Linked DNA regions of Homo sapiens: all the other regions are reported to be linked to region 4. The links are microRNA targets in miRTarBase. Many come from high-throughput screens and were not tested one by one. Region 4 holds a microRNA gene; each other region holds the end of a gene's coding sequence.

Region 1 (5,072 bases), not on the chromosome of region 4:
TTTGAGACAGAATTTTGCTCTCTTTGCACAGGCTGGAGTGCAATAGTGCTATCTCGGCTCACTGCAACCTCTGCCTCCCGGGTTCAAGCAATTCTCCTGCCTCAGTCTTTCGAGTAGCTGGGATTACAGGTGCGCGCCACCACACCCGGCTAATTTTTGTATTTTTAGTAGAGACACGGTTTCACCATGTTGGCTAGGCTAGTCTTGAACTCCTGACCTCAGGTGATCTGCCCTCAGCCTCCCAAAGTCCTGGGATTACAGGCGTGAGCCACCGCGCCTGGCCTGACACACTTTTCAAACTCGATGCGGGGAACTAGCACTCCTGGGGAACAGGTGGGAAGATTGGAGGGCACTGAGGCAAGGATGGGGGACCCCTTCCCATGGCCCTTCGGCTGGTGCAGGGTCCCGGGCCAACTGCCCTGGTAGGGGATTGCAGGAAGAAGTGGCCTCTCCCAGGTCTAGGTGGGAGATGGGGGAGTCCTCACACTGCACCCTGTCTCCAAGTGTCCTTACACAAGTGCCACTTGGTGCATCCCACCCCCATGGCATCCTTGCCCTAACCCCTTCCTCAGGCGTCCTTATCAGATTCCCAAACATCTTCACAGGCCCCCTCCAATCAGAGTTTCCTGCCCTTCCTCCCCCAATGAACCCTAACCCTAACCCCCAGCTCTGGAGCCTCTCAAACCCTAGCCAGTCTCTCCCTGTTCCCAGTGCCCCTGCAGAGAGCTCCCCTGCTAGGCCTTTCCTCCCCCGGGTCTCCTGCATGGCACCAAGAATGATGGTGACATCCCCAAGTGGGTAAGAAGACAGAGTAGGATCTGGCCTTGGGCCCTCAGCCCTGCCTCTGCCCCTGGACCCAGTACCCTCACACCATCCTGTGACCAGGTTCCTGTCAGTCACAGACCAGCAAGTCCTGCCTGTCCCCATCCCAGACAAGGCACCTCCTAGCCTGGGGTCTGAGGAGAAATGGGCTCTGGCCTGGAGGGGCACTGCCACCTGCACCCCTGGGAGGTGGAGGAGGAGGACGCCAGCACAGTCCTTCGGTCAGAGTTTTGTGGCAAACCATAGAGGTGTCCTCTCAAGCTGGGCCCTGGTGGGGTTGGGGACCTGGGTGTCTTTGTTTCCAGACTCTGGGACAAGCCCAAGGCCGACTCCTGACATGCTGGGGAGCTGGGGCTCAAGGCCAGCTGCCGGGAAGGACAGGGCAGAACCTCAGACAATTCCTCTGCGGTCCTGCCCTGACCTGGGCAGCCAGCGGGGGTGGAATTACCATGGAAGCAGGAGGCACGGACAGTGACTGTGAGGGTCCCCAGGGTTACATCTGCACCATGTGTGGCCAGGAGAGCTGTGGCATGTGATACGACAGTACATGGGACTTGGCTGTCTCAGTACACAAGCAGTGTCATGTCCTTTGCTTGGCTGTGAGGCATGGGGGTAGGGAGCACTTTGTGGACCCACACTGGGTGCAGAGGGCAGGTCCTGGCTAGCATCTGCCTGAACCCAATTATGTTTCTGCCTCTAGGGGCTGCGCACCGTGTCTCCCGCCTGTAATCCCAGCACTTTGGGAGGCCGAGGAGGGCAGATCACCTGAGGTCAGGAGTTTGAGACCAGCCTGGCCAATATGGTGAAACCCAGTCTCTACTTAAAAAAAAAAATACAAAAATTGGGCCGGGCACAGTGGCTCATGCCTGTAATCCCAGCACTTTGGGAGGCGGGTGGATCACCTGAGGTCAGGGGTTCAAAACTATCCTGGCCAACATGGTGAAACCCCATCTTTACTAAAAATAATACAAAATTAGCCAGGTGTGGTGGCACATGTCTGTAATCCCAGCTACTTGGGAGGGTGAAGCAGGAGAATTGCTTGAACCTGGGAGGCAGAGGTTGCAGTGAGCCAAAATCGCACCATCGCACTCCAGCCTGGGCAACAAGAGTGAAACTCCGTCTAAAAAAAAAAAAATTAGCCAGATGTGGTGGCAGGCGCCGGTAGTCCCAGCTACTCAGGAGGCTGAGGCAGGAGAATCACTTGAAACCAGCAGGCAGAGGTTGCAGTTAGCCGAGATCGTGCCACTGCACTCCAGCCTGGGTGACAGAGTGAGACTCCCTCTCAAAAAACAAAACGAAACAAATTAGCCAGGCACGGTCGTAGGTGCCTACAGTTTCAGCTACTCTCGAGGCTGAGGCAGGGGAATCACTGGAACCCAGGAGATGGACGTTTCAGTGAGTCGACTGCCTTGAGTTCCTCTAGGAAGCTTTGCTTTGCCACTCCTGGCTCTGTCCTCCACCCCGCCACCCACCGCCACCCAGCAGCTGGGACTCTGCCTCAGCTCTGTGGGGAACCCCACAAAGGACTATTTCTGCCCCCTACTCACTGTCCTCCCTGCACTGGCCCCCTCACAGACTCTGTGGTCCATCTGATGGGGCTCTCTTACCTAAGCCCTCCATGGGCTCCCAATGGCCCCCAGTTCAAAGCCCAAACTCCCTCACCTGACGTAAGCAGTCCCTTCTTAGTCTGACCACGCCCAGGCTTTCCTGTTCTTCCTTCCTAGGTATGGTATGCCTCCTGTTGGTCTGATCTTTATGCTTTTACCCCTCGAAGAGGCCCTGACACCACCTCCCCCAGGAAGCCTTCCCTGATCTCCCTGCACATTTGTCTATTGAGCACCTACCACATTAGTGCAGGCTTCCCCCTGCCCAGTGCCTGTCTCCTCTGCTCCACTGGAGACCCCCTCAGAGCCAGGCACAGGGCAGAGTACCCCACATTACCCCTGGAGGCGTGAGCAGAATGAATGCAACCGGGTCCTGTGCTTCCTGAAGCCCAGCGATTCGGCATGCCTCTCTCCTTCAGGGGAGGCCCAAGTTGATTCACCCAGGTGGGAAATCATGCCCTGCCCCCAAACTGAATGCCCTTCTATCCTCTCCCACCCCCATTCTATGAGACTGTGGGGAGCTCCTAAGGGCAAGGACAGCCCCACCTTCCCTCAGCACGGTTTTTGGTCCCTGGGCTGGGCACCCACCGCTGCTTGTGATTCTCCTCCCAGCCCGCAGGCCAGTCCGTGACTGTGTAAATACACTTTATTTTCCATTTTTCCCGCCTGGGCGACATGTGAACAGGCAGTGTGCAAAATGGTGGCGGGCAGTGTAGGGGGCGTGTGGAGAGCCCCGTGGGTGCCTGCCCCGGTCCCCAGGCTTCGTAACACTGAAAAGTGGGCAGCTAGGAAGCGGGGACGGAGCAGGGGTCCCCACCCAGGAAGCGCCAGGGAGATTGCTTGTGACGCTACTCTACTGGAGGCTCCGGGAGCACCGAGGGGGGCAGCCCCCAGGGTCATGAGGCCCGGGGGGCCGGGGGAAGGGAGGAAGGGGCCTGGGGGGCATCGTTGGATTTTGGCACCGTTCTCAGCTCTGATTCAGCAGAGACAACGGGACCACCAGGAGGAAGTGAGGGGAGGCCGCTCGCTGGGAAGCTCCTGCCTGGGGGCCTGGCTCTGGCTGAGGGTGGGGCTGGAAACACATGAAGAAAGGGAAGTAGATGGAGACCGAGGACCCCTGTAGAGATACCCCTCCATCACTGGCCAGGATAGGGGGCGCGAGTGTCTCCCAGAGAAAGATGTGGGGCACTGGGGAGAGGGGTCTCTTCACTTCCTGGAAGCTGCTCTGGCCCCAGAGAAGCAGGGAGGCTTCCCGTTAGCCACTCAGTCCCCAGGCGCCCCGCACATAGTAGGGGGACTTTGGTTTCCGCTGCAGGGGCCACGGTGCCTGCGCCAGGCAGGAGAGGCCGGCCTGGCCATCTGTCCCCAGCGGCCTGACTCCCCTAGAGATGGCCAGGGGCTAGTCAAGGGTCACTTCATCCCGAGGAGTGTTGTGGGGTGCTGATGTCCAGCCCAGAGCTGGCGCTCTCCTTCCTCAGGCCTCGGCTACCTCCTGAGCACTTCCCAGCAATGTCGCCCCTGTCCCAGAAGGAAGCCTGCCAGGAGGTGGGAGCTGCCTGCTCATTCAGTGCTGGGACCTCTGGGTCGTCTGTCCCCTGCCCTCTGCCCTCCTGTTAAGAGAGCAGTCAGCCCCTCCAGGCACCCCTGGAACGCCAGAGGGCCCGGAGGGGTACAGACCAAGATGGGTAAACACTGCTGGGGATAGAGAGCCTGCCCCGGGGCCCTGAGGAGCCCAGGTCGGACCCTACCCTCTGCGCTGCCTCGCCGGGCCTCGCTTTAGGGGTGGCCGAGCCACAGAGGGCGCGTAGTTTGTCAAGTGCGGCAGGTGGGGAGCAGAACGCGGACTGCCCGGGCGCCCCCCGCGGCTGCGGCCTCCTGACTCCGGGCGCGCTGGGCATGGCCTCAGTTGTCCAGACCCTGGCTGTAGGGCGCGGCCAGCTCATCGGCGTCGCTGTCTGAGCTGCCCTCGCTGTCCTTGGCCGGCCGCTCCAGACGGCGGAAGAAGCGCGCATCGCGCGGGGACAGAGGGTACAATGCGTCCTGCAGGGCAGCGCCCACGCCTACGCCAAGTAGCTCCTCGTCCGACGACGGCAGCGAGTCCTCGTCCAAGTGCCGCGCCAGGCTCAGCCCATCGAAAGCCAGCGGGTCCTCGAAGGGCGGCGGGCCCTTCAGCAGCCGCACCTGGGGCGGGGGACCGGCGCTGCAGGCGTGGACCGGCCTTCTGCCCCGCCCTCCCAGCCGCATCCTCCGCAAGGCACCTGCGCTCGGCTCGTCCCAGGCCGACGACACCCAGGCCTGTCCCCGGCATCCCCGCGCCGGCTCACCTCGGCCTTCAGCTCCTCGATCTGGTCCTTGAGCTCGCGGATGTACTGCGATGAGTCCGAGTGGTTCAGCTGGCCCTGGATGCGGCCTTCCTCCCTCTGCGGGGTGCGCCAGGTCACGCGGGGCCAGTGCCATGCTGGGCCTGGGGTCCGGCCCCGCTCCTGCCCCGGGCCCTGCCCCCGCCCCCGCCCCCCGACCCCGGCCCCGCCGATCACCTGGATCTCCAGCTCGGCAATGCGCTGCCGCATCTCGGCCACCGCAGCCATGCTGTCCGCCTCCCGCAGTCGCACAGCCATCACCTCCTCCTTGCTCTGGGGTCGGGGG
Region 2 (5,072 bases), not on the chromosome of region 4:
GAGGAAGGCGAGCTGGGGGGAGAGGAGGAGGAGGAAGAGGAGGAGGAAGAAGGACTGGACGAGGCGGAGGGCGAGCGGCCCAAGAAGCGCGGGCCCAAGAAGCGCAAGATGACCAAGGCGCGCTTGGAGCGCTCCAAGCTTCGGCGGCAGAAGGCGAACGCGCGGGAGCGCAACCGCATGCACGACCTGAACGCAGCCCTGGACAACCTGCGCAAGGTGGTGCCCTGCTACTCCAAGACGCAGAAGCTGTCCAAGATCGAGACGCTGCGCCTAGCCAAGAACTATATCTGGGCGCTCTCGGAGATCCTGCGCTCCGGCAAGCGGCCAGACCTAGTGTCCTACGTGCAGACTCTGTGCAAGGGTCTGTCGCAGCCCACCACCAATCTGGTGGCCGGCTGTCTGCAGCTCAACTCTCGCAACTTCCTCACGGAGCAAGGCGCCGACGGTGCCGGCCGCTTCCACGGCTCGGGCGGCCCGTTCGCCATGCACCCCTACCCGTACCCGTGCTCGCGCCTGGCGGGCGCACAGTGCCAGGCGGCCGGCGGCCTGGGCGGCGGCGCGGCGCACGCCCTGCGGACCCACGGCTACTGCGCCGCCTACGAGACGCTGTATGCGGCGGCAGGCGGTGGCGGCGCGAGCCCGGACTACAACAGCTCCGAGTACGAGGGCCCGCTCAGCCCCCCGCTCTGTCTCAATGGCAACTTCTCACTCAAGCAGGACTCCTCGCCCGACCACGAGAAAAGCTACCACTACTCTATGCACTACTCGGCGCTGCCCGGTTCGCGGCCCACGGGCCACGGGCTAGTCTTCGGCTCGTCGGCTGTGCGCGGGGGCGTCCACTCGGAGAATCTCTTGTCTTACGATATGCACCTTCACCACGACCGGGGCCCCATGTACGAGGAGCTCAATGCGTTTTTTCATAACTGAGACTTCGCGCCGGCTCCCTTCTTTTTCTTTTGCCTTTGCCCGCCCCCCTGTCCCCAGCCCCCAGAGCGCAGGGACACCCCCATCCTACCCCGGCGCCGGGCGCGGGGAGCGGGCCACCGGTCCTGCCGCTCTCCTGGGGCAGCGCAGTCCTGTTACCTGTGGGTGGCCTGTCCCAGGGGCCTCGCTTCCCCCAGGGGACTCGCCTTCTCTCTCCCCAAGGGGTTCCCTCCTCCTCTCTCCCAAGGAGTGCTTCTCCAGGGACCTCTCTCCGGGGGCTCCCTGGAGGCACCCCTCCCCCATTCCCAATATCTTCGCTGAGGTTTCCTCCTCCCCCTCCTCCCTGCAGGCCCAAGGCGTTGGTAAGGGGGCAGCTGAGCAATGGAACGCGTTTCCCCCTCTCATTATTATTTTAAAAACAGACACCCAGCTGCCGAGGCAAAAAGGAGCCAGGCGCTCCCTCTTTCTTGAAGAGGGTAGAAGTTAGGGCGCCGGAGCCCGGGCCTGGAACGCCCTCACCCCCAACCTCCAGTCTCCGCGTTTTGCGATTTTAATTTTGGCGGGAGGGGAAGTGGATTGAGAGGAAAGAGAGAGGCCAAGACAATTTGTAACTAGAATCCGTTTTTCCCTTTTCCTTTTTTTAAACAAACAAACATACAAAAAAAAAAAAAAAAAAAAAAAAAAAAAAAAAAAAAAAAGCTAAGAGGCGACGGAAGCCGAACGCAGAGTCCGGATCGGAGAGAAAACGCAGTAAGGACTTTTAGAAGCAATAAAAGGCAAAAAAAACAAAAAACAAAAAAACAAACAAAAAAAAACCACTACTACCAATAATCAAAGACACAAATATCTATGCAAGGAGGCTCCACTGAGCCTCGCGGCCCGGCCCGGCCCCGGGATGCCCCGCCCGGCCTGCGGGCCGCCCCGCCCGAGCGCGGATCTGTGCACTTTGGTGAAGTGGGGGCCCGCGCCGCCCCCTCCCCCTCCCCAGGTTCTTACAATCAGTGACTCGGAGATTTGGGGCCCCAGTGCCACTGCCCTCCCCCGCCCCGTCCCCGTTGTGCGTCATGCTGTTTTTTAAAAACCTGTTTCCAAATTTGTATGGAATGGCAAACTGTTGGGGGGTCGGTTTGGGGAGGGAGGGTTTGCATGAAAGACACACGCACACCACACCGCACGCACAAGCAGGCCCGGCGCCGGCGTCCGGGGGGCAGAAGGAGGTGAGCTCGCCGGCTCCTCCTCCCCGCGGCCATTCTGTCCCCTCCTGGGGTGAGGGGTGGGGATGGAGACCTGGGGGCAGCCCCACCCCTGCCCGGACTGTGCCTCGGTGGGTGCCACCTGGCGATTTCCGGTGTCTGGAGAGAGTATTTTTTGGTCCAAGGAGTCCTCTTGGCTTTAGCTGGTGGGTGGGCGGGGAGAGGTCTGAGGGCTCCTACTGGAGGTTCCCCCAAAAAGGGGCAAAAGGAGACCCTCTGCCCACCGGAGGCAGGGGATCAGGCATCCAAATACACGATGCAAAAATGCAATCCCACAGGCGACACACCCACACACTCACCCACACACACGCAATTTTACCTTCCTCTTGTAGCGAAGATGAAACTCCCGTCGGACACCCGAAGTGCATTGCGTGTTTCTGTTCAGTTTAATGACGATTAATAAATATTTATGTAAATGAGATGCAAAGCCGGACCGGTTTCTCACGGTGGCCTCATTTCATTGAGGGGGGAGAGAAGGTTTGAGCTGGGGCTGGGGTGATGAAGGCAGAGTGTCAAGTGACTGTGCAGAGGCCAAACAGAGGGACCCTGGACATTCTTGGGTAGTATTCTCTCCCTAACCACCCCCCATACACCCACTGGGCTATACTAGCTACCCCTCCCAGACCCAACCCAGGCTCGCACCTTCCCAGCACTAAAGCACTGATATCCTTACACTTCTTCATTCCTGAACATGCACAGGCACCTCCCTTGAAAACAAAATACCTTTTCATCACTGAAAAATGATCAAGTTGGGAACAGCCAGTCATTTTACAACTCTCTGCCCACTGTTGCAAAAAGCAAGTGGGCAGAGACAAAGAGACAACCATTTGAATCAGACAGGGGTATTTTTAAACAAAACAAAACAAAACAAAACAAAACATTATAAGGTCATGAAGATGAAATATTAATGAGGGAGGCCCCTTTTTCATCTTAAAATTGTATTTCGGTGGACTCAGGGGAATCGGCCATTTTGGTCTCAGGAATGTTGACATGTTTAGGGGTGTGGACAAGGTTGGAGGAACACCCCTAGAGGTCTGTGAGGTGGCTGAGTCTGGGCGCCCACCCAGTAGAGAGGAGCCTAACCATGTACTCCCTGGGACAGGGCAGCAGGCGCCCACCCAGTCCAAATCTGGGCTGATTTCTTCCTGTCTGGTACAGTTCTGAACAGAGGGAACCCTAAGGGCTTAGAAGGGAGGAAGGGCACTGGGTGAGCATCTCCTGCTCAGACAATGTGGCCTCACAATTCTTTTTTCTCTGAACCTGAGAGGCAGGGGCAGCTCTTAACTGACTTCCCTGATAGAGTCCCTCCTACTCCCCCTGCTCAGCCCTCAGTGCATGCTGTAGCCCTAGAATATTTGAAGAGGGTTCTGAGCCCCAAAGACTCCCATCCTAAAGCCTGAACACATTTAGGAGTCCCCCAAAGAGGCTGTTTCTGATGCTGCTCATTTAAATGATTTCTCCAAACACTGTGACTCATTTTAGGGCTGAAGTGGGGTTTGTAGTGTTGGGGTTGAGGATTAAGGTCAGGCATGCAAAGGCTTTTAAAGATTGGGTCCAAGAACCCAAAATAATATCTCCCTGACAAGCAGGAAAGGGAAAGATTGTTGAAGAAGGAAGTCCTATATATTGAAGGGTGGATCAAATTATACTCTGAACTTGAGCTCATTGCATCCCCTAAATGTCTGTCCTCAAACCTCTTCTGTCCCCCAGTAGAAAGAATACCCTCCCGGTGGTCAGGACAGCTGTCGGCAGAGGCGCCAAGGCCAGGAGCTGTCCACTGTGGCATGCTGACCCTCGTCTAGTGTCTTTTCTTCTGGCTGCAGAGGGAGGTCCATTTGCCTGACCCAGGGGAACATGGAGCAGGAGGCCCTTTCCAATGCTGCACTGGAATTCTCCAGCAGTTTTCAGAACATTTACCAGCATTCTTTCAAAATTTCACTGCCTTCTCTGGAATTCTCCCGGCATCGCCTCTCTAGAGTGAGATCACAGACTAGGGCCTTCATCCCCCGGATGTGTCCCTGTCTTCAGCATCTTAGAAACCTCTGAATCACTCCTATTCATGGAAGAAAGGAGTTGGCCCATCTTCCTTCCCCCTCACTTATTGCAGGGAGTGTAGAGCAAGGCACATACCCCAGATCCTAACCTGCAAAAGTCTGATCTGCACTCATGGCGTGGAGCAAGGCCTGGCAGGGGCAATTGCAGAGAAAAGGAACTTGGCACTTATCCCGAGGCCTGATTCTTATCCTGCCCTGAGAACAAGGTTAATTGGGCTTCTCCCCTACTCAGTCAGTTTCCTAGAACCCGCTCAGAAGTCCAGAGCTGGGCGGGATCCAGGTGGCTTGGGGCCTGAAGCAAAGGACCCCTCCATGTGGCTCTCCTGGCCAGACCACAGACTTCTTTCTATGCATTGTTCTTCAGCTACCCTACGTGGCTCAATTCTGTTTTTGAAGCCAGATTCCAGCCCTTTTAGAAAGATGCTGATGACTTTTGGGCCTCTGTGAGCTGTGATCACATTGGGTGGGGGTGCACAGGTCCCTTTTGGGACAGAAATCCCCCCGAGTGACTCAGCTTCTGGTGAATCCCGGCATCCACACCAGTCGCCCCTTTCCCGATTTCTGACCCTTCCCCCCACATTCCCTGCACTCTGGCTGGCTCTAGCCTCTCATCACCCTCCTCCCCAGTGCTCAACTTCCCTGGCGAGATGGTGTGATGAGCAGGAGAAGAAGATGTGCGCGGACAAGCGGCCCCAAACGTCCCCTCGCAGGTCTCTTTCTCTTGCTTGCTCTCCCGCCTGCGCACACACACCCAGAGATGCTCCAAGAACAGAAGCAGGGGAGGGAGGAGGAAAGGGGCCAGCGCTGTGCCTGGCCTGGGGAGAAGGCACAGAGAGGACGC
Region 3 (5,072 bases), not on the chromosome of region 4:
CAGTTTGATTTTTTTTTTTTTTTTTTTTTTTTTTAGTTTTTGGGGATAGAGCTTTTTTGCTTTGTCAACCAAATTGGAGTGCAGTGTGGCGTAATCACAGTTCACTCAAACTCCTGGGCTCAAGCAGTCCTCCCACCTCAATCTCCCAAGTAGCTGGAACTACAGGCACATGCCACCGCACCTGGCTAATTTTTTCATTTTTTGTAGAGACAGGGTTTCACCATGTTGCCCAGGCTGGTCTTGAACACCTGGCCTCAAGCAATCCTCTCGCCTCCGCCTCTCGAAGTGCTGGGATTCCAGGCGTGAGCCACCTCACCTGGCCAGCAGTTTATATTTAAAATTCTTTATTCAGATCAATGTATCAGGATATCAGGAAATTTTGAAAATGGTAAACTCTTAATCTTCTGCTATACGTAGAAAATGGCATTCTCATTTAGCAAATCACATAGTTCAAATACCCAGTCCCAGCCCTATGCATAAACAAAGAAAGCAATGAATAAAATTAACCACACAGTTTTGCTTTCAACTAATGCTACATGAAGATTAAATAGTAAACAGTTAACCATAATAACATATTGTCTTTATACCCAGAAAGCAGTGGAGGACTGTGAATGGCCTCTGATCATTATAATCAATGTTCATTGACATTGTACTAAGCAAAACATAAATAATAGGATTAATGTTTTTATGTTATTAGTAATAATCTGTAACATATATCTAAATATTACCAACTACATTTTTTATGAGTTTATAAGTAGTGCTGTCTTATATACATTTATTAAGAGAATTCATTCTTTATATCAAAAAGGTAAAAAAATTACTATGATTATGAACTATTAAATCTGATGTAATTTTTTAAAGTAATCATCTAATTCTTAATAATAAAACATTTCTCTCTTCAGGTGCGGTACGGGTCACTAAAATACAAAGTGAAGAAACGACCACAAGTGTATTTTTAGTCATCTACACGTCAAATATCCCAAGACAGATTATGCTAAATACATCGACTTCATCTTCTAACATGATATATTCAGGATTTACACATTAAAATGATTATTTAAATTGTGGCAGTGATGGGGTTTACTTTCATGAATTTAAATTGTTTTTATTTCTGTAACAATTGCTTCCAAATATTGACTACTAAAGGCAGTTCTGCAAGATGTACTAAATATGTATATTAGAAATTATAGAAAATCATGTTGTCCGTTTTCAAATTCATCAACAGCCTAGAGTGCCTGAGATATAAGATGAAACACAAATCCACAGTATACTTGAAAGGAGCCTTTTTACGGTTCAGGATAAATCAGCCTTTGTGATGTACTGTGTTTACCTCCTTTTGTGTTGTATCTGGTAATTAAATAGGCCTCAGATTCAGCAGTGACATAACAAGGACATAATGTAAGATAATAAAGTAGGTTTTATATATTCTTTAAATTTTTACTTATATAATACTTTCTAGTTTTTCCACCATCAGCTGAAAGTTTTTGAAACAAATATTTGAAAACCAGGTATCCACACATAGCACTTTTATTCCTGACTAGTTTTGCACACTTGAAAATTGTTTACTTATTTTACAACTGTTTTACTGATGCTATCTTTATTGTTTTTGCCGTATTCTGACATGTCAAATCTATGCCTTGAATTATATCATCTCTTTTCCTGTGGGTTTCATTTGTTAAATTCATTGGATTTTAATAATATAAAAGTATAGCTAATTGTTCAGTTTTAACTATTTTTAATTATCTTCTTAACAAATAAGAAGTTGCTTTAAACATTAACCAATTTTCTATATTTAGCTATACAGAGTAATTGAACTTAACATGTTTTTGTCAACACCAATTACATTTTCAGCTTTTAAAAATGGTAGCTTTTGTGAAATAGAATCAGTGACCAGTATAGCACTTAGATCCCTTCTAACTCATATAATTTTTCTCAGCCAATCCATTCACAAGCTTGGCATTGACATGTGCTGCTAGTTTATAAACTGGCATTGACGAAAATCATTTGAATCTCTTCTGGCTGAGATAATTTGCCAATGCAAAATACAGTTGTCATTAATCCTGCACATTAGAAATTATTAGAAACATATTACTTTTTAACTTTAAATCTCAAAGAGATTTTGAGTTATTGAATTCTTAAGGCTTTCTTAGCTTGAACTGATAACTATGCATTATGAACCCTAAGTCAATATATTTTTGGTGGTTTTAGTGATCAGTAATCAAATTTGTACTTATTATGCTTGTTCAGGTAATTTACTTGACTGTTCTATTTGTTTGTCCAAAAGATAAAATGATGAGAGAGATTCGAGAGGTCTTTGATCTGTCTCCCTTTTAAGAAATGAAGCCAGCTGGTAATGTATATTCAGGACTTCCTCAGAGTATTGGCCAAGAACATAATGTTTACACAGGAGTACCTTGGTATAATGCATACATTGTCTCATGATACTAGTCATAAAATATTTTATGGATTATTTCACATTCTTCATATATAACAAGTAAAATTAATTCAGTTTTCTTCTCCCAACGTTTAATTCTGAATAACTCTATCTACTTTACCCTAATTTTTAGCCTCTTAATTTCTGGAAGGACTCTAATTTCTATTCCAAATTTCTATGAATTCTAATTGTAAATTATCGGAACAGAGTTTTATTTATATGACCTGGTACTAGACTTCTTAATATAACTGTTACACTGTCCTTGTCTTTCCTACTCAAAGACAGTATCATCTGAAGTTGCCTAATAAGGTCATGTGAGTCAAGAACTTTATCTGTGGGAGCTGATTTGCACCATTTTACCTTTTTTTTTTTTTTTTTTTTGAGACGGAGTCTTGCTCTGTCACCAGGCTGGAGTGCAGTGGCGCGATCTCGGCTCACTACAACCTCTGCCTCCCGGGTTCGAGCGATTCTCCTGCCTCGGCCTCCCGAGTAACTGGGTCTACAGGCCCGTGCTACCACGCCCAGCTAATTTTTGTCTTTTTAGTAGAGACAGGGTTTAACCATGTTGCCCAGGATGGTCTCCATCTCTTGACCTCGTGATCCGCCCGCCTCGGCCTCCCAAACTTCTGGGATTACAGGCGTGAGCCACCGCACCCAGCCACCATTTTATCTCTCTAAAGTCTGGTCCCAGTATTAAACCTATTCTTTAGTAAACTCATATTACTGTTCTAAATTGAAGAAATTATTTATTACTCTGTACTTCTAGACTCAAAATTCTTTATCAAAGATAGTCTCAAAGAGGTAGTACAAGTCCTGTTTAACTGCACTTTTTCACATTCACAGTGCTTCCTCTGATATCTTTCCTTACATCATTATACACTGTTGATATCATTTTACTCTTCTTTCTCTTCTACATTTCTTAAATTTTGGTTCTTTTCCTGTACATGTGTTTTAGCGGGGCCCTTTTCTTTGAACTTTGTCTAATTAGCCTGTACATTTTTGTTTCTTTTAAGGTAGAACAGATCTTTTTTTGTTTCTCCTTTTAAGTCTACTGGTTTTAAAAGAGGTAAATGTATCCATAGACCACAGTGCCTTGCTTTTTCCTCTGCCAGCACATGGAGCACGGGATTAGATGCACAAACCTATTTAGGGAACTATTTTGGTAGATGTTTGAGTTTATACAGAAATTGCAGCTGGTATTTTATTTTGCTGTACATTTACTCAACTTGTCCATTAGTATTTAACTATTTCCAGAGTTTGTTTAGGAGTAAGAATTGACCCATTCGTTAGTTTACCATATTTTTTCCTGGTATAAAAAGGAGCCAGAAATAAGCCTTATTGCTAAATAATTAATTATGTAAGCCCACCTAGGTCCTGCATAAGATCCCCCTCACATACTTCACAATATATATGTGTGTGTGTGTGTGTGTGTGTGTGTGTGTGTGTGTGTGTGTATTTGGCTAAAAAATTATACTGCCAAAATTACTGATTATAAATACTTGACTACACTGATTGATGGGACAAAATGATTAAAGTATTTTCAGGGATCTTATTCCATATGTCACCACCAAAGATTTCTACAGTGTTATAAAGTATATAAATATTCCAAATTTCTGTGGTTAAATATTTTTTTCTTTTTTTTCCTTTTTTAGAATAACACAGTCTGTGCTTTCCAAAAATGCTTGAACTTTTATGTTGTTAAGAAATATATAATGATATCTTACATTAAGCATGAGTCTAATTTGTATTAATTGGGATGGACTAAATTTTCATTTGATTATCAGGAAAATTAAGGAGTTATATATTTAAAAGCAATTTTCTGTGTTTTCTTCTTTGTAAGTTGACTCATTTGTGAAGCAATTAGGCAAATTTTGAGAAGATCATTGTTATTGTGGTTTGCAGTATATATTTCTTAGTAAATATCACTTAAGATTAAATTTTTCAGAAAGAAAATTATAGCTTTTTTCCCAAAATATTTTTAAGATTTAATCTTTTTGTAGTATGCTACAGATTTAATTATATTAACTCTTTTTTAAGACATTGACCATGACTTAACATTTTGCCTTCTAACACCTTTTAAATCTATGTACTTTAATAGTTAAGAGAAAATAAGTTTGCAGATTTTTAATAATCTGTTTGTAAAAGGCTATCTCTAAGCCTAGTATGTGGGTAATTTTACAGGTGTGTTTTTTGATAACTTTAATATAAAATAAACTCATTTTATTTGTGGCAATTCGCGTTTCTTTTTTTATGCCAGAGTACATATGTTGGATTCCATGAATTGGTATTACTTATTATTATGTGTTGATTAAATATATGCACACACTTAGGATTACAGATCACAGAGCAAATTATGAAAATCATAAACATTCTGGTATGGTCATCCATAGGATTATGAAAAAGAAATACTGAATTGTTAAATTTGGATGTTAGAAAGGAAAGATAGGAAAAACAATGAGTACAGAAATCCTCACCATCAATTTGGATGGGTTAGCTGTCTCAGGCATAAAATGTAACACAAAATTCAGATTTATGTATCCTGGAAATGTTCTGGGGTTCCATCTGTTTTAAAGTTAGACGTCTGTCTGCCTCACATTTAAGCTTTAGAGAGAAATCCTATGTTTTAAGAAGTTTCTTT
Region 4 (5,072 bases):
GAGATGGGGTTTCACTGTGTTAGCCAGGATGGTCTCGATCTCCCGACCTTGTGATCTGCCCGCCTCGGCCTCCCAAAGTGCTGGAATTACACTGCGCCCGGCCCAAGATAATGTATTTCTAAAAACTTTCAAGTGACGCTGATGCTGCTGTTCTGAGGACCACACTTTGAGTAGAAAAACTTAGACTAGACAGAAAACAAGTAATTAGAGTACTGATGTGATGCTTTGTATGACTGGGCAAGCAGAGGGTGCTTAGAGTCTTCGTTTTGTTTTGCTTTGTTTTTCACTCTGCAAAACAATCTATGTTCGGTTAAAGCATTTTTGCACAATTTTTATTTCCTCCATAACTACATAAATATAGATTTCTCTGATTCATGAGTTTATCTTTTGCCATTTAATGATTATATACACTAGAGAGCAGTATCTATTTTATGAACAGAAGAATAAGGGGCCGGGTGCAGTAGCTCACGCCTGTAATCTCAGCACTTTGGGAGGCCGAGGCAGGTGGATGGCCTCAGTTCAGGAGTTTGAGACCAGCCTGGCCAACATGTTGAAACCCCATCTCTACTAAAAATACAAAAATTAAGTGGCAGGCACCTGTAATCCCAGCTACTCGGGAGGCTGAGGCAGGAGAATCACTTGAACCCGGAAGGCGGAGGTTGCAGTGAGCCGAGATCGCGCCATTGCACTCCAGCCTGGGCAACAAGAGCGAGACTTGGTCTCAACAACAACAACAAAAAAGAAGGAATGTAACATCATTATAAAGAAGACATAAACAAGTATTACATATTATTTACTATAATGAGAAAATATCCAAAATAGGTCACTGAAGTAGATTCTCCCAATTGTGAACAATAGTTTTTATTGTAAGTCAAAATAGGAAATATTTTCCAGAGGTTGCACAAACAGATTAAACCACAGAAATAACATTATTTCAGATAAATGGTCAATCCCTCTGTGGTCTTAGACATTTAGTTTTGGGTAGAGAACATGGAAAACTTCCTGAAGGAAGTGATTTCTAAGCTGAGAAACATCAATAGGCACTAGCCAGGTCTGTAAGTCTCTAACACCCATGCTTTAACTCATATTTTGGATCAAGTTTTTGTATTCTTTCATTTTAGTGTTTGTTTTGTTTTTGTTTAGTTTGCTATAATATTTTATCTGAATGGAGACTAATATCCTTTGAGGAGAAACAATTTCAAGTTTATTAATTAGGTTTCTGTTTAAGACTCCATCATAATATACCATTTATTAGTTTATAATTCAGATTCTAAACCTATTGTAAGAGTGCCTACTTGCAAAAAGCAAAGAACCAGAGGTTCAGGATTTGTGAAAATAAAAATACTGTAAAATATAAATGTTTAAATATTTTCTTTTCTTTTTTTTTGAGATGGAGTTTCGCTCTTGGTTGCCCAGGCTGGAGTGCAGTGGCGTGATTTTGGCTTACTCAATCTCCATCTCCTGGGTTCAAGCGATTCTCCCGCCTCAGCCTCCCAAGCTGCTGGGATTACAGGCGCCCGCCACCACACCTGGCTATATTTTTGTAGTTTTAGTAGAGATGGGGTTTCACCATGTTGGCCAGGCCGTTCTCGAACTCCTGACCTCAGGTGATCTGCCCACCTTGGCCTCCCAAAGTGCTGGGATTATAGGCATGAGCCACTGTGCCCAGCCAAATGTTTAAATGTTTTCACTATTAGATATGTCTAATAAGAACTAAAGGAATATCTTCTTGAAATTGAAAAGGAAATAATATTTTTCTATCCCATAAGGATTGTTGGAAAGGTTTAAAGAGACAATAATATACGCAAAGTGCTTACTTAGCAAGATGCCTAGTATAAGGAAGGTAGTATAAGAAAGTAATGTTTTGTTTTTGGTGTCCATTTGGGGTTCTCTAGTAGTTTGGACAGGTTATTTTAAGAGTAATCCTTTATGAAAATTATAATGTACACATTTTATTTTGGGACAAGGATTCTAATCATTTCAATAATTTATTTTTAAGCACAGTTTACTGGGGTCTCAACAAAAGTCACATATTCAGAAGTAGTATGGCCTCTAGGCTAGGAGTCTAGAGACCTAGGTTTTAGTTCTAGCTCTGTTAATCCTGTTTTACTTTGTGCCAATCATTTCAAAAAAGGATGCTTTACTAATTGCTCTGTAAGGTGCTTTCTAGTCTGCATCGGTTTTGTTGAGACTGCAATAGCAATGTATCCAAGGTCCAAACTAATGATTTGCCATCTGGTTTCATTTAGCAAAGTTAATGTTCGGTCATCAAGTACATATTCAGTAGGAAGTATTCTTTTTCGAAACAGTTTCTACAGTCATTTTTTTTTAACCCTGTATAAAATGAGTTTATTTTGGACTGTTAAAAAAATTCAAAACTTTAAAATTTGTTATTTTTCAACTAATGCAAAAGAATATATTAGAAACATCTGAATAAAAAATGATTCTGGGCTGGGCACGGTGGCTCACACCTTTAATCCCAGAATTTTGGAAGGCCGAGGTGGGCTGATCACCTGAGGTCAGGAGCTCGAGACCAGCCTGCCCAGCATGGTGAAACCCCGTCTTTACTAAAAATACAAAAATTAGCTGGTGTGGTGGCGGCTGCCTGTATTCCCAGCTACTTGGGAGGCTGAGACGGGAGAATCGTTTGAACCTGGGAGGTGGAGGTTGTAGTGAACAGAGATCATGCCATTGCACTCCAGCCTGGGCAACAAAGAGCGAAACTCCATCTAAAAAAAAAAAAAAAGATTCTGTTCTTTTCTGTATTTACTGATGTCCCTAAACATTTTACATTTTTTTTTAAAATTTAGGTTATCTCCCTATTAAAACTATTTACAAGTGACAGTGATGACTCCTGTTACTCAAAATTAAACCAAAATGAACATCAAACTGGGATTTATTGGGGCCCAGAAACAAGAAGATATAATTCATTCATTTGAAAATGATAAAGAGGGACTGAAATAATAGTGAGAAAGCTGCCCTGAGACCAGAGTAACTTTGTTTCTTTGATGTATCATTTACAGTAATAACCCAACGGGGTGCCAAGGGGCTGCCACTCTTTGGCTATGCTTTATTGTCCATTCACACTTTGTCTCCATGTTTCCTTCCCCCTTCCTCCTGTATACATGTATACAGAAGGGGGAAGGAAACATGGAGACAAAGTATGCATATACATATAGAAATTCTGGAGCAGTAACTTACTGATGTATACAACTTATCGAATCTCTCTGAGTTATGCTACTACCCCTAGTGTGTTGGGCATGTTGGCTCAAACTTCCTTAATCAGGAAACTTTGGAATGGGTTTATTGCTAGCTGTCTTTGCTTGGGTTTAATCTCAATATTTCTGAGGTGCAAAGTGCACTAGATTGAGAGTTAATAGATCTGAATTTTAATTCCAGTTTTGTTCCCAATGATCACTGTGACCTCAGGCACATCATTTCACCTTTCGTCGTTCATTCAGTTTATCTTACCTATTCATTAAAAACCAATCTGCCTGCCCCCAGTTGCTTTCTAGTGGTAGTGATGATGGAGGTGGTGAGAGACACAATAAATACATAAGCAAATAGGAGAACTATGAAGGAAGGAAAAGTTAGTGATGTACTAGGGATAGTGTACTTTTGATAGGGCATCTAGGATTTCTCTAGATAAGTGAAAAATGAAGAGGTTTAACTGGATGCTAAGGGGTCTTGCACATTAAAAGGCATGTGTTTCCGTCTTTTCACTACTGTGTTCTAGGAAGGCCCACCAATGCCTCTAACCTGTAAATAAATGCAAATCTATTTAAATCAAGTGATACATCAATTTTATGTTGCTTGATTTGGAAGTAATCCGCAAAGAAGCAATAGCTAAACATTTTAGTGTTGTTTGGGGAGTAGCTGCTGAACAATAAAGACCAAAACCATAACTAAAAAACAAACAAACAAACAAAAAAACGCAGCCCGAGACAGATCAGAAACTAGGTGTATGTAGGGCGCCAGGTTATGACACTGTTCTCTGACATCCACAGGGCGCAAAAAGAAAACCTCACTAGTCAGCTTCGCACGTGCTCTGCGCAGGGGCTCCTGCGAGGCCCTAGTCCCTCCCTGGGAGCTAAGAGCAGGACGGAGGCTGTACCTGACTGCTGCTTGGAGGGAACCCTGGCTGAGTCCAGGGAGGAGGAGCCAGAGGAGGGGCCGATTGGAAGCAGCCACCTCAGCGAAGCTGCAGGATTTCCGCAGGGCGGGAGCTGTTTATCTCCCGGAAGAAAACGGCTCCTGTCACAGAAGTCTCGTGATTGCTCTGGGAGCTTTGCTTAGACACTTGAAACTACAGGAGAAAGAAGGATCTAGCGAAATATGGCTACAGAGAGCCCTGCTACGCGTCGGGTCCAGGTGGCAGAACATCCTAGGTGGGGGAGAGGAGACGCCGGGCTTTGGGATCTGCTGGGTTGGCTACGTGTAGATCGGGTCCACAGCACTTGGCTCCTCCCTTGGGGCGCTGCTTTTGGTCCCGGGGAGCAAGTGGAACCCTTGGGATTCTATAAGGACACGTGGCTGGGCTTGCAAAAAAGATCACGCCGCAAACACATTCTACCTTGACTACTACGAAGGGTTGTATGTTTTTTTCTTCATCCATGCAGATTCTTCTTTTCCTTTTCTTGTTGTAATTAGTGTACTCTTTCTACTGGGCTTCAGCAGAAATGCCCATATCCACACTGAACTCCTCTCTTTGTCTCGCATGCCAGTTGATACTGCTTTTTAAAAGTCTTCTTTCTAAATATTAATTGAAAACAAACACAAAAACCTTCTTGGTGTCTGCATCCTCTTTAAAACAAAACAAAACAAAAACACGAGAATCTCTGAACTGTCACTTAGGGAATTAATTTGCTGGCAGTCCCTAGCTACACAGTAACTAATAGTTTAGTGATGTCTCGGGGAGGATCTTTTCAGTTACAGGTACTTTGTAGAAATACTTCGTTCTGACTAATGGGGCTGAGGTCTCATAAAATGAAGTCTGTCACCTGCTACATTAGCGAAGGGCTTTCCTGACTCTCTGCTTTTGCTGTTTTTCTTTTCTTTTCTTTCTTCCTTCC
Region 5 (5,072 bases), not on the chromosome of region 4:
GGCCATCTCTGAGCAACTGGGAGGCAGGCGGGGATCTTAGGAAAATAATTATTAATATAAGGCCAAATAGCTCAAATGGCTGGGAATCAAGTCAGCAAGTCTATTCCGTTTCTAGAGCTTAGTGGTGTCAACATTGGCCTGGGCCAGGTAAGTGGAGTGGGAGGAGAAAAGCACCGGAAGGCTGGAGTTAGATCCTGGTCCCTGAACCTCTAAGCATCCGTGGGGCTATAAAACGAGACCAGGGTATGGCACAGATAGGATGGGTGCGCGCAACTGCGGTGGGGAGGCGTAGTGCCATGCGAGGAGGGCTGTGTTACAGTTCGTTGCTCCCTCCTGTCCTTGAAATGGAGAAAGAAACCCTGCTCCTGTTCCATCTTCCAATGCCCTTCCTTTCTGCTGGACATGCAGGGATTTGGACTTGAAGAAGCCCATCTACCAGAAGACAGCATGCTACGGCCATTTCGGAAGAAGCGAGTTCCCATGGGAGGTTCCCAGGAAGCTTGTATTTTAGAGCCAGGGGGAGCTGGGCCTGGTCTCACCCTGGAGGCACCTGGTGGCCATGCTCCTCTTCCCCAGACGCCTGGCTGCTGATCGCCTTCCCCACCCACCAACCCTCAGGGCAAAGCCAGGTCCCTCTCATTTAGCCTGTCCTGTCATCATCATGGCCAGCTGGAGGCAGGGGCTTCCTGGTGCTGGAGGTTGGATCTTGATGTAAGGATGGGCATGGTGTTCTCCTGCTGCTCCCTCAGACTGGGGCAATGTTAATTTAGTGGAAAAGGCACCCCCGTCAAGAGTGAATTCCCTCACTCGTCTCCCCCAACAGCTGGACCCTGACCAGCTCCCCCTCCCTCCCCTTGCCTGTGCCAGGTGAGGTCAGCACATCTCAACAGGCCTCAGGGCTCCTTGTGGGCCTGGGCTCCTGGACCCCCCTTTCACAGGCAGCCAGTGCCCTGAGCCAGGGTCTCCAGAAAGCCCCACCCAGGCCAGGCATGTGGCAGGGGTTAGAGCAGGACTGATGTCTCCTAAGCACCTGTAATGTGCGAGGGACCCAGCTAATAACTGATCTCGTTTTTTCTTCACTGCAACATGATGAGGTAGTACCTTTTATATCCCATTTATAGATGGGGGAAAGCAAAGCACAGAGAGTCTGGATAACTTCCACAGGGTCCCACAGCCACGTGTTTAGACCTAGATGTATAACTAGGAGCTTTGACTCAGGAGCCTGTGACATACCCCCTCCCCCACCGTTGTCTCATGCCAGTAACAGGCTCAAACAATGACAAAGCAGATTCAGAAATGAGGCCATGGACTCTGTCCTGAAGGCCTGAGGTTACTGGAAATTAGGGGATTAACCCACTAGCTCTTGTTGAGCCGTGGGCAATTGTCTGAAAAGTGAAGACAGAACCACAGGGCTATTTTGTTTGCTTCATGTGTCCCAGAAGATGACTGAGGGTGAGTTGGCTTACCTGGCCCATCAGGGTAGGCTGGAGTTAGGGACTGACCAGCAGCTTTAGAATCCCAGCCCCCTGACCACTCAGAGACATGCAGAGATTGGGTTTTTGGACTTCTGGGGTAAGTGGTCTAAGTCCAGTCCAGTCCTATCTGGGCTTCCTGGAGCAGAAGCAGCAACTTGTCCTAGCACAGATGGCCAGCCCCTTAGACAGAGGCCCTCAAGTCTTTCTCTTTCCCTGGTCCCTTGTATCCCCTGCAGGCTGAGTGCATTTGGAGGGAGTGAGTGGCCCTTTCGGATCCAGGGAGGCTGGTCCTATGGCCTCATGTTAAATAGGCGGGGCTTGCCTTCTGGTGTTGGACAAGCTTCTGAGACGTCATGAGGAGATTCTGCCTTTGCCAGGTGACTGTCTGGGGAGCGGGTCTGCTCCCAAGGGGCCTGAGCAGTCCTTGGCCTGCTAAGGTCTTGGAACTTGCCTGCCTTTCCATCCATGGCCAGCAGCACCTGCCCTACCTGCCCCACTTGTCCTTAGCCTGGACCTCTGACAGCAGCATCTCTACCTTCTCCCCAGCTCCCAGGACCACAGGCTCAGGCAGGGGCCTCCATGGGCCCCAGGGGAACACTGGGGACTTGGCCTCTCTCTAGGGTACATGGTGCTGGGAGAGGCAGCCCAGGAAGTCTCATCTGGGGAGCAGGCAGCCAGCATCTGGGCCTTGGCCTGGAGCACAAAGACCCTGGCTTTCATTTTCTCTCAGGTGAAAGGAAATTAAGGCAACAAAAGAAGCCCGGCTCCTGGTCACCTAGGAAGCCTCAGATTCCTTCCCATGGAGGGAGGGAGTGGTTTGCAGGTGGCCAAGTTCCTCTAACTTGGCTCACACTCGACATGAAAATTCAGAATTTTATACTTTCCCTACCCTCTAGAGAAATAAGATCTTTTTTGTCAGTTTGTTTGTATGAAACTAAAGCCTTTATTTGTTAATAGTTCCTGCTAAAACAATGAATAAAAACTCAAGGAGCAACTACCCTATGCTTAGTTATTCTCTGCAAAACCCCAGAGACATGACACCTGCTCTGTATAGCATTCCCTGGTTGCCCACCCCCACCACCGGGGGAAGTTAGTATCCTCCCCTCGGGGTCACCCCATCCTGTCCACGTGGAGCAGATGTCTCATGGACTAGGTTTTTCTTGTTACTAGCAGCTATGTTAAGCCACACCACTGCCATGTTCATTCCTCACCACATCTCACCAAGGTGGATATTCTTAGGAAGCCCATTTTTACATGCGGGGCCCTGAGGCCCCAAAAAGGGTTAGGACCAAAGGCAGTGGCCACCTCTGGCTCCTCCCTGAGTTCTGTGTGCTCTCCTTACGCATTGCTGCCCTTAGGCTGCCTATGCCTTATCTTGTGCCCTTCCTGCATGGTGTCTGCATGAGACTGGCATGAGGGCATGCTCAGGCCATGTCTGGAGTATGGATAAGTGACTGAATTTGAACAAAGTGAAGGAGTGGAGGGGATTGGTCTGTGGAGAGAGGAGCCGAACTTTTAAGTGGATGCACATTTCCCTTCACTCGTGTTCAGTTGTGAAGAGAATAAGCAAATGGTTCTTTTTCATTGAAGGTCATCCCTGCCATGGCCCCCGGTGATGTGGTTCTTGGGGTTTGATCAGAGCAGGAGGAAGATGGGTCCTGCATGGTTTCCGGCAAGCAGGCTGTGTGGACAGGACTCAGCTCTGGGGAATGTCCTGGTGCAGCCTGAGGCAAAGCCTGTGTGGCCCCCGTGTCTCACGGGCAGACAAAGCTGATCTGGGGTGCCAGGAAGACCCAGAATGTGGCGGGGAGGGGAGGGGAGGATGAGGCCAAAGGGCCTCACAGTCCTGTTTGAGACAGAACCTATACCCTGAGAAGACACTAGGTGGGCAATACAATGAAACATGACACATTACAGAGAAAAGCACGTTTCTCAAGAATGCATACAAATAGACACACTTAAGAAACACACTGGAATACTTGCCTGGGGTAGGGGGAGGACTCTAGGTATAACATGCAAAATAATTAGTGAAAGCAAGATAGAGAACCACCTTCTGAGCCACAAAGCCAAGTGTCACAGTGTTAGGGAAATGTGGACGGAGCAAAGGAGGTTGGCAGGGAGCGGCCAGTGGAGTTTGAGGAAACTCAGGAGCACAGAGTCCCTGGAAGTCAGGTGAAGACTGTTTCTAGAGCAGGGGAGCCACCAACTATGCAAAATGGTTTTGATGGGTTACATGATGGGAGGCCCAGGACTGTCCAGTGAATTCAGCCACATGGAGGTTGATGATGTGGGAAATGGCAGAGTCACATTTAAACGTAAATATGACCCCAACCCTCACCTCAATCATCCTCCCCTGGGCCATCTCATGACATTCAGAGTGCGTGCTGGGCTGCACTGCCCTGCATGTCTGTGCAGTGCCTGCCCCCTACCCTCATCCTGGACTCTGCTCCCCACTCCCCACATTCCGGACTCCTTGGCTCTTTGGCTTCCCCCAGCAGGCCAAGCTCGTTCCTGCTCAGGGTCTTTGCACCTGTCGTTCTGTCATGGGTGTGGGGTGCGCTGCAGGTTTCAGATGAAATTTCTGTATTTCCAAAAAACCCCTTCCTTGATAGCCTCTCTTTCTACTCCATTCCATTTCTAGTTTCTTTTTCAGTGTTTAACATGATGTTCCTTGGAGCCTTTCACTTGAATCCTTCCCTACCCATTCACTCTCCCTTCCTTCTTCACATGCGGGTCCTCCAAATCCCTGCAGTCTCAGCTGACAAGCCACCCTCCATGATGCTCCCAATCTCCCAGGAAGATGCTCCCAAGCACCTTCCATAAATCACACCCAATGCTGTCTCCATCTGGTACCGGGCTCTCAAAGGTTGTAGTTCTTTAAATAACTAAATATTTTCATTAATTATTAATAATAATGTTATGGCAATAATTCTATTGCTCACACTCTGAAGATGATGTATCAACCCAAATAAGAAAGCTTTTTTCCCCAGCTTCATTAAGGTATAATTGACAAATAAAAATTGTATGTATTCAAGGTATATAATGTGATTTGCTATATGTATATACTGTGTAATAATTTCCACAATCAAAATTATGAACACATCATCACACACAGTTACTCTCAAAGGTTGGAATTCTTTATGGATGTCAATGCTTGTTTATTTATACCTGTTGCCCCCATAGGACTTGGGGCTTTCCAAGGTCATCTGGCCTTGTCTGCTGTCTCATACTTGCCTTCAATGCAGGGCTTGGCACAGAGTAGGTGCTTGGTGTAGCACGGGTCATATCAGAGAATGAATTTGAGGTGTGTCCATCTGTTCTGCCTCCTGAGCTCTCCTTAGCAAGATATTCTGCAAGATATAAGGATCCTGCTTGCCCTTTGGTAGGTCTTGCCAGGCTCAGCTGCTCAGAGATGTAAATGTCAATCATTCCACAGAGCTGTTTTTTTAAAGCACCTGTTAAGAGCATAGCACTGTGACTATAAGGATTTATACCGTTACAGGTCACAGAGGACTAGAGAGACCAGTATGGGTGAATATAGGAGGGTATTTATTTTAAGGTGTGCACTGGCTCAGTGGATTCACATCCAAAAAGCTG
Region 6 (5,066 bases), not on the chromosome of region 4:
TTATTTCTGTGTTTTATATAGCAGGTCCCTTCACCTTTTAGAGAGTAGTAAATCTAGCTTCTTTGTACAGACTTACAACTTATCTAAAGATTTCATCTTTTTACCTCATATTTGGGAGAAATTTCATGGATATATGTTGTCTGTTTTCCTATGCCTTCTAGCTCAAGCAACATATAGATCAATGTTAATTTTTTCTTTTTTAGATCTTATAAAAAAAAAAGCCAAAAACCCCACAATTCTTTGAAGAACGAAAGGGGGAAGCCAGCTGCCATGTCATGAGGACACTCAAGGGGTCCATATGGCAAGGACCCAAGGCTGCCTGCCGTGAGCCACCAGGGAACTGCCAACAGCGTGAGCGGGATATGTCGGAAGCAAATCCTCCAGCCGCAGTCATGATGATTAGAGCCCCAGCCAAGATTTTGATGGCAACCTCATGACAGACCCTGAGCCACAGCCACTCAACTAAACTACTCCCAAATTCTTGACCCTCAGAAACTGTGACGTAATGTATTTTATTGTTTTAAACCACCAAGATCTGGGGTACTGGTTATGCAACAATAAATACCGAATACACACATACAATAAAACCAGGCCACGAAGGTTTTCCAGGGGATTCTACAACACGTTCAAGGAAAAGATGATCCCAGTTTTTACGAACCATTCCAGAGAGAACGTCCCCACCCACTTTATGAGGCTGTATAACCTGATACCAAAACCAGTCAAGGATATTATTTTCAATGTATAAGCAAATCTCACTAATGAACAGATAGTAAAAGTTCTAAACAAAACAGCAAGCTGAATTCAGCAATATATTTTAAATACACATAGCATGGCTTGGTTTACTTCGGGAATGCAAGAATGAATTTACTTTTCCAAAATCTATAAATTTATTCACCATTTTAACACATTGAAGAAGAAAAATGATATGAGCATCTCAATAGTTAAGATAAAAATGGATAAAATCTAACTTTACTGATTATTTTAAAATATACTTAGCAAACTCAGACTAGAAACATCACATTTATTGATGAAACATTAGAGACCTACCCTTTGCAACCAAGATAGTTCTAAGGATGCTCACTGTTCTGCTCAACATTATAGTGGAGGTTTTAGCCAGTGCAGGAAGATATTTTAAAACAGAAAAATAAATCAATAATGGGTGTAAGGTTTTAATAGGAAGAAGCAAATTATCAGAATTATTACTAGACATAAGATAATTATGTAAAAATAAATTACATTCTTATATATTGGTAATAAAAATTAGAAAATACAACTTTTTTTATTTTTTTCTTTAGAAAATATAACTTTTTAAAAAGATGCCATCTACAATAGCAATGACAAATCAAAAAAGAGGAAGGATACCTAGGAATAAATCTAACAAAATCAGTGCAAGGTTTCTTTTTTTTATATACTTTAAGTTCTAGGGTACATGTGCACAACGTGCAGGTTTGTTACATATGAATACATGTGCCAGGTTGGTTGGCTGCACCCATTAACTCGTCATTTACATTAGGTATTTCTCCTAACACTATCCCTCTCCCAGCCCCCCACCCCCCGACAGTCCAGGCGTGTGACGTTCCCCGCCCTGTGTCCAAGTGTTCTCATTGTTCAATTCCCACCTATGAGTGAGAACATGCGGTGTTTGGTTTTCTGTTCTTATAGTGAAGGTTTTTATAAAAAAAATTCTAAAACATCACTGAAAGATTTAAAATGACGTAAATAAATGGGAAGATGAACCATGCTTACTGGCAAGAACACTAGGTATTGTAAAAAATACAGATTCTTCCCCAAATTAGTTTTAAATTTACTGCAATTTTTTTTTTTTTTTTTTGAGATGGAGTCTCGCTCTGTCGCCCAGGCTAGAGTGCAGTGGCACGATCTCGGCTCACTGCAACCTCCGCCTCCCGGGTTCAAGTGATTCTCCTGCCTCAGTGTCCCAAGTAGCTGGGATTACAGGCACCTGCCACCGCACCCAGCTAATTTTTGTATTTTTAGTAGAGACGGGGTTTTACCATCTTGGCCAGGCTGGTCTCAAACTCCTGACCTTGTGATCCACCCACCTCAGCCTCCCAAAGTGCTGAGATTACAGGCGTGAGCTGTAAGTTCTATTAAAATCCCAGCAGGGTTTTTCAATGGAGTTGACATGCTGACCCTGAAATATTCATAGAATTGCAAAGAACCAAGAATAGAAGAAAAACAAGGTGGAGAGATGACCCTATACCAAAAATTATTAAAGCTCCAATAATGGAGACCGTGAGTCTGGTATGGGACTAGACAAGTAGACCAATGGAGAACCCAGAAACCAACTCCCACAGCTGCAGAACCCAGAAACAAATGCCACGATCCAGCTCTCCTGCTCCACATCCACCTGGTGGTGTTGGAGGATCCATTGCTCTGGATTGTGAGCACAGAGTCTGGCCACCCAGGGCTGAGGCCATCCGCAGGGGAAGACAGACTGATGTGAATGTAACCTCCAGTCTGAGAAAGTTCGGACTTACCCTTATACACAGAGAAAAATACCAACTCAAAGCTCTTCTTTAGAAATCATGATGCCAATAATAATTGCTCATCCTTTAGTAATAATAGCTAACATTCATTAACATGTATTGCCTGCAGGCCGCTGGGCTAAGTCATTATATGCTTTATTGCCTTTAATTCTCACAAAAACTCTACGAAGCAGGTACTATGTTATCCTGTTTTAAGGTTCAGGAAACCAAGGCTTAGAGAATGTAAGCAGGTGTCTTACCCAAAGTCCCATGCAGTTAGTAAGTGGTAGAGCTGGGATTTGAACCCACAGTTGTCAACTCGCCAGCCCCTGTTTTAACCACTGCCTCTCATAAGCACAGACATTCAATTAAAGCAACAAAGGTTTTACGGCTTTCAGTTGGAAGAACAAATGAGACTGTGACAGCAGCTGAACTAGAATCAAGCTTATCATTATATTCATGAATACCAGTCACATGTTAACTGCTCCATAAATGCTTGTGAAATGAGGTGGCAGAGTTCCAGGAAATGCAAATCAATCCAGTTTCAAAATGACATGTTGCATGGATGTAAAGCAAGTGGAAACTCACAGGAGGCTCAGGAAACACGCTGGACCTACACTGGGCACCTGGAGGGAAGGCTCCGTGTTTTCTTCCTCTCTCAGCCTCACAGAAGTCGCTTATCCTGAAAATGCTCATGCATGAATGGAGTCCAGTGCTCTCCCAAGTAGCCCATAGGTCAGAGAGACATAAAGTGAGAAAAATGGAGCAAGGGAAAAAATGGCAAGAGCTCTACTTCTCAAATAAAATTCGATGAAGAGGGCCAGGTGTAGTGGCTTACGCCTGTAATCCCAGCACTTTGGGAGGCCAAGGCGGGCAGATCACTTGTGGCCAGGAGTTCAAGACCAGGAGTTTGAGATCAGCCAGGCCAATATGGCAAAGCCCCGTCTCTACTTTAAAAAGTACAAAAATTAGCCGGGTGTAGTGGCACACGCCTCTAATCCCAGCTACTCAGAACGCTGAGGCATGAGAATCACTTGAACCTGGGAGGCGGAGGCTGCAGTGAACTGAGACGGCCCACTGCACGCCAGCCTGGGCCACAGAGCTAGACTGTCCAAAAACAAAAACAAAAAATTAGATAGAGCAACAGCCTATCCTTTCCCTCCAGGAAAAGCCATCATCACTTGGATGGCATGTGTTCCTTTATCCACGCATTGATTTCACAAACATTTACCGGCTTACTCTGTGCAGGAGACAGGCCCCGGCCTGGAGCTGTCCCCTTACTCAGTAGACACTGAAGAGGCCCCTCTCTCCACCAGACGCCAAGCCAGGCACAGCGGAGCACGGATGGGTCCAACACAGTCCAGCGCCCCCGGCAGTGTCAGCGCACACCCGCGTGGGAGCTGGGGAAGGCAGGCAACCACAGTTTACAAACGTCAAGCTCAGTTTCCAGGAACGGGCGGGGGACACAGAGAGGAGGGGTTGCGGGCCTGTGAGAATGAAGAGCACAGAGCGGAGAGGGGGAGGAGGAGGGAAAGGAAGGCGTGGCAGTGAGAGAGAAGAGGAAGAAGAGAGGAGGAGTGGGGAGGGGAGGGAGAGCAAGACAGCAGCGGGTCTGGATTCCCCTCCGAGCCACATCTGGTCAGGTTCTAAGTAATTAGAAGATTTTCCCATTGGTTTACCCAAGGGCTCTCTCTCTGATTAATTTTCGAAAGAGTTGGCCAATTTTAATCATAGCAAACACGATGATCACGGTGATCATGGCCTGAACAGCTAAAAGCAGAAAATAAAACCCCCAGAACGGACTATGATCTTGACCTTTGCCCGTGGTCACCGGCTGGGCCCACACCCAGGGTTCTGAGCTGTTGGGAGCCAAGGCTGGGTGGACAGGGGCTTCCGAGGAGCTGTCCGCAGCGGGGCGGGGAGGCGGGCCCCGGGGGCCCGGGCACTCCGCGTCACCCCCCGGCAGGGCCCAGAGCGGCAGGCCGGCGTGCGCCCCAGGGCCTGCGCACCGTGGGGGCTCTTCCCCGCCCACGAGGCCTAGGTGCTGCCGCAGCCACCCCAGGAAGGGCCCCAGGCCACAGTCGCAGCGCCAGGAGTTGTGCCCCAACAGGACCTCCGTCAGCCGGGGCAGAGCCCCAAACACGTCGCCAGGCAGGGTCTCCAGCTGGTTGTGGTCGAGCTGGACGCTCTCCAGGCTGCTGAGATTGCGGAAGAGGGCACGGGGCAGGGCGCGCAGCCTGTTGCGGCGCAGGGACACCTGGCGCAGCTTGCCGAGGCCGCGCAGCAAGCCGTCGGGGAGGGCGGTCAGGCCGTTGGAGTGCAGGGCGAGCACCTGGAGCTCGCCAAGGCCCTGGAAGGCGCCCTGCGGAAGCGCGCTCAGCCGCGGGCTCAGAGTCACCCCTAAGTACCGCAGGCGGCTCAGGTTGCGGAAGGCGGCGGCGGGCAGGGTGCGCAGCTGGGTGCGGTTCAGCCACAGCTCCTGCAGGCCCCCCATCTCCCCGAAGAGCACCCCCGGGAGCTCTGCCAGCGGGTTCTCGAACAGAGTCAACAGAGTCAGATTGTGCGAATGAAGAAAGAGCG

The links. The annotated mature microRNA hsa-miR-4716-3p reads AAGGGGGAAGGAAACAUGGAGA and lies in region 4 at 3,092-3,113, opposite strand. An mRNA with a match to its seed (bases 2 to 7 or 8) in the 3' UTR can be bound and repressed. Matches are read on the target gene's strand: a 7mer-m8 pairs with bases 2 to 8, a 7mer-A1 pairs with bases 2 to 7 and ends in A, and an 8mer does both.
Region 1: the mRNA of EVI5L is a reported target of hsa-miR-4716-3p. Seed matches in the 3' UTR shown: 8mer at 3,716-3,723, 7mer-A1 at 3,576-3,582 and 7mer-A1 at 3,140-3,146.
Region 2: miRTarBase lists NEUROD2 as a target of hsa-miR-4716-3p. Seed matches in the 3' UTR shown: 7mer-m8 at 1,256-1,262, 7mer-m8 at 1,318-1,324 and 7mer-m8 at 1,900-1,906.
Region 3: the mRNA of REEP3 is a reported target of hsa-miR-4716-3p. Seed matches in the 3' UTR shown: 7mer-m8 at 3,819-3,825.
Region 5: miRTarBase lists MAT1A as a target of hsa-miR-4716-3p. Seed matches in the 3' UTR shown: 7mer-m8 at 840-846.
Region 6: the mRNA of GP5 is a reported target of hsa-miR-4716-3p. Seed matches in the 3' UTR shown: 7mer-m8 at 4,002-4,008.

Annotation. Positions count from the first base shown.
Region 1 is chr19:7,862,959-7,868,030 of GRCh38, reverse strand. EVI5L (ecotropic viral integration site 5 like) reads right to left here. Exons shown (of 20, transcript NM_001159944.3): 18 at 4,964-5,059; 19 at 4,751-4,846; 20 at 3,055-4,607. The coding sequence ends at 4,329. Among named protein-coding and RNA genes, the nearest start is that of PRR36, 8.9 kb to the left of the region's middle. RefSeq lists a silencer at 1,274-1,568 and an enhancer at 3,566-4,274.
Region 2 is chr17:39,601,306-39,606,377 of GRCh38, reverse strand. It overlaps NEUROD2 (neuronal differentiation 2), which reads left to right. Exons shown (of 2, transcript NM_006160.4): 2 at 1-2,610. The coding sequence ends at 927. Among named protein-coding and RNA genes, the nearest start is that of NEUROD2, 4.1 kb to the left of the region's middle.
Region 3 is chr10:63,619,911-63,624,982 of GRCh38, forward strand. REEP3 (receptor accessory protein 3) reads left to right here. Exons shown (of 8, transcript NM_001001330.3): 8 at 903-5,072. The coding sequence ends at 959. It overlaps LOC105378329 (a long non-coding RNA gene), which reads right to left. Exons shown (of 4, transcript XR_001747467.3): 1 at 4,909-5,072. Among named protein-coding and RNA genes, the nearest start is that of REEP3, 100 kb to the left of the region's middle.
Region 4 is chr15:49,165,988-49,171,059 of GRCh38, forward strand. It overlaps MIR4716 (microRNA 4716), which reads right to left and starts at 3,166; the gene lies at 3,083-3,166. It overlaps GALK2 (galactokinase 2), which reads left to right and starts at 4,260. Exons shown (of 10, transcript NM_002044.4): 1 at 4,260-4,388. The coding sequence starts at 4,336. RefSeq lists enhancers at 3,672-4,576, 4,208-4,447.
Region 5 is chr10:80,269,220-80,274,291 of GRCh38, reverse strand. It overlaps MAT1A (methionine adenosyltransferase 1A), which reads left to right. Exons shown (of 9, transcript NM_000429.3): 9 at 409-2,472. The coding sequence ends at 511. Among named protein-coding and RNA genes, the nearest start is that of MAT1A, 18 kb to the left of the region's middle. RefSeq lists an enhancer at 155-1,354.
Region 6 is chr3:194,392,439-194,397,504 of GRCh38, forward strand. GP5 (glycoprotein V platelet) reads right to left here. Exons shown (of 2, transcript NM_004488.2): 2 at 2,383-5,066. The coding sequence ends at 4,162. Among named protein-coding and RNA genes, the nearest start is that of GP5, 4.3 kb to the right of the region's middle. RefSeq lists a silencer at 4,729-4,778.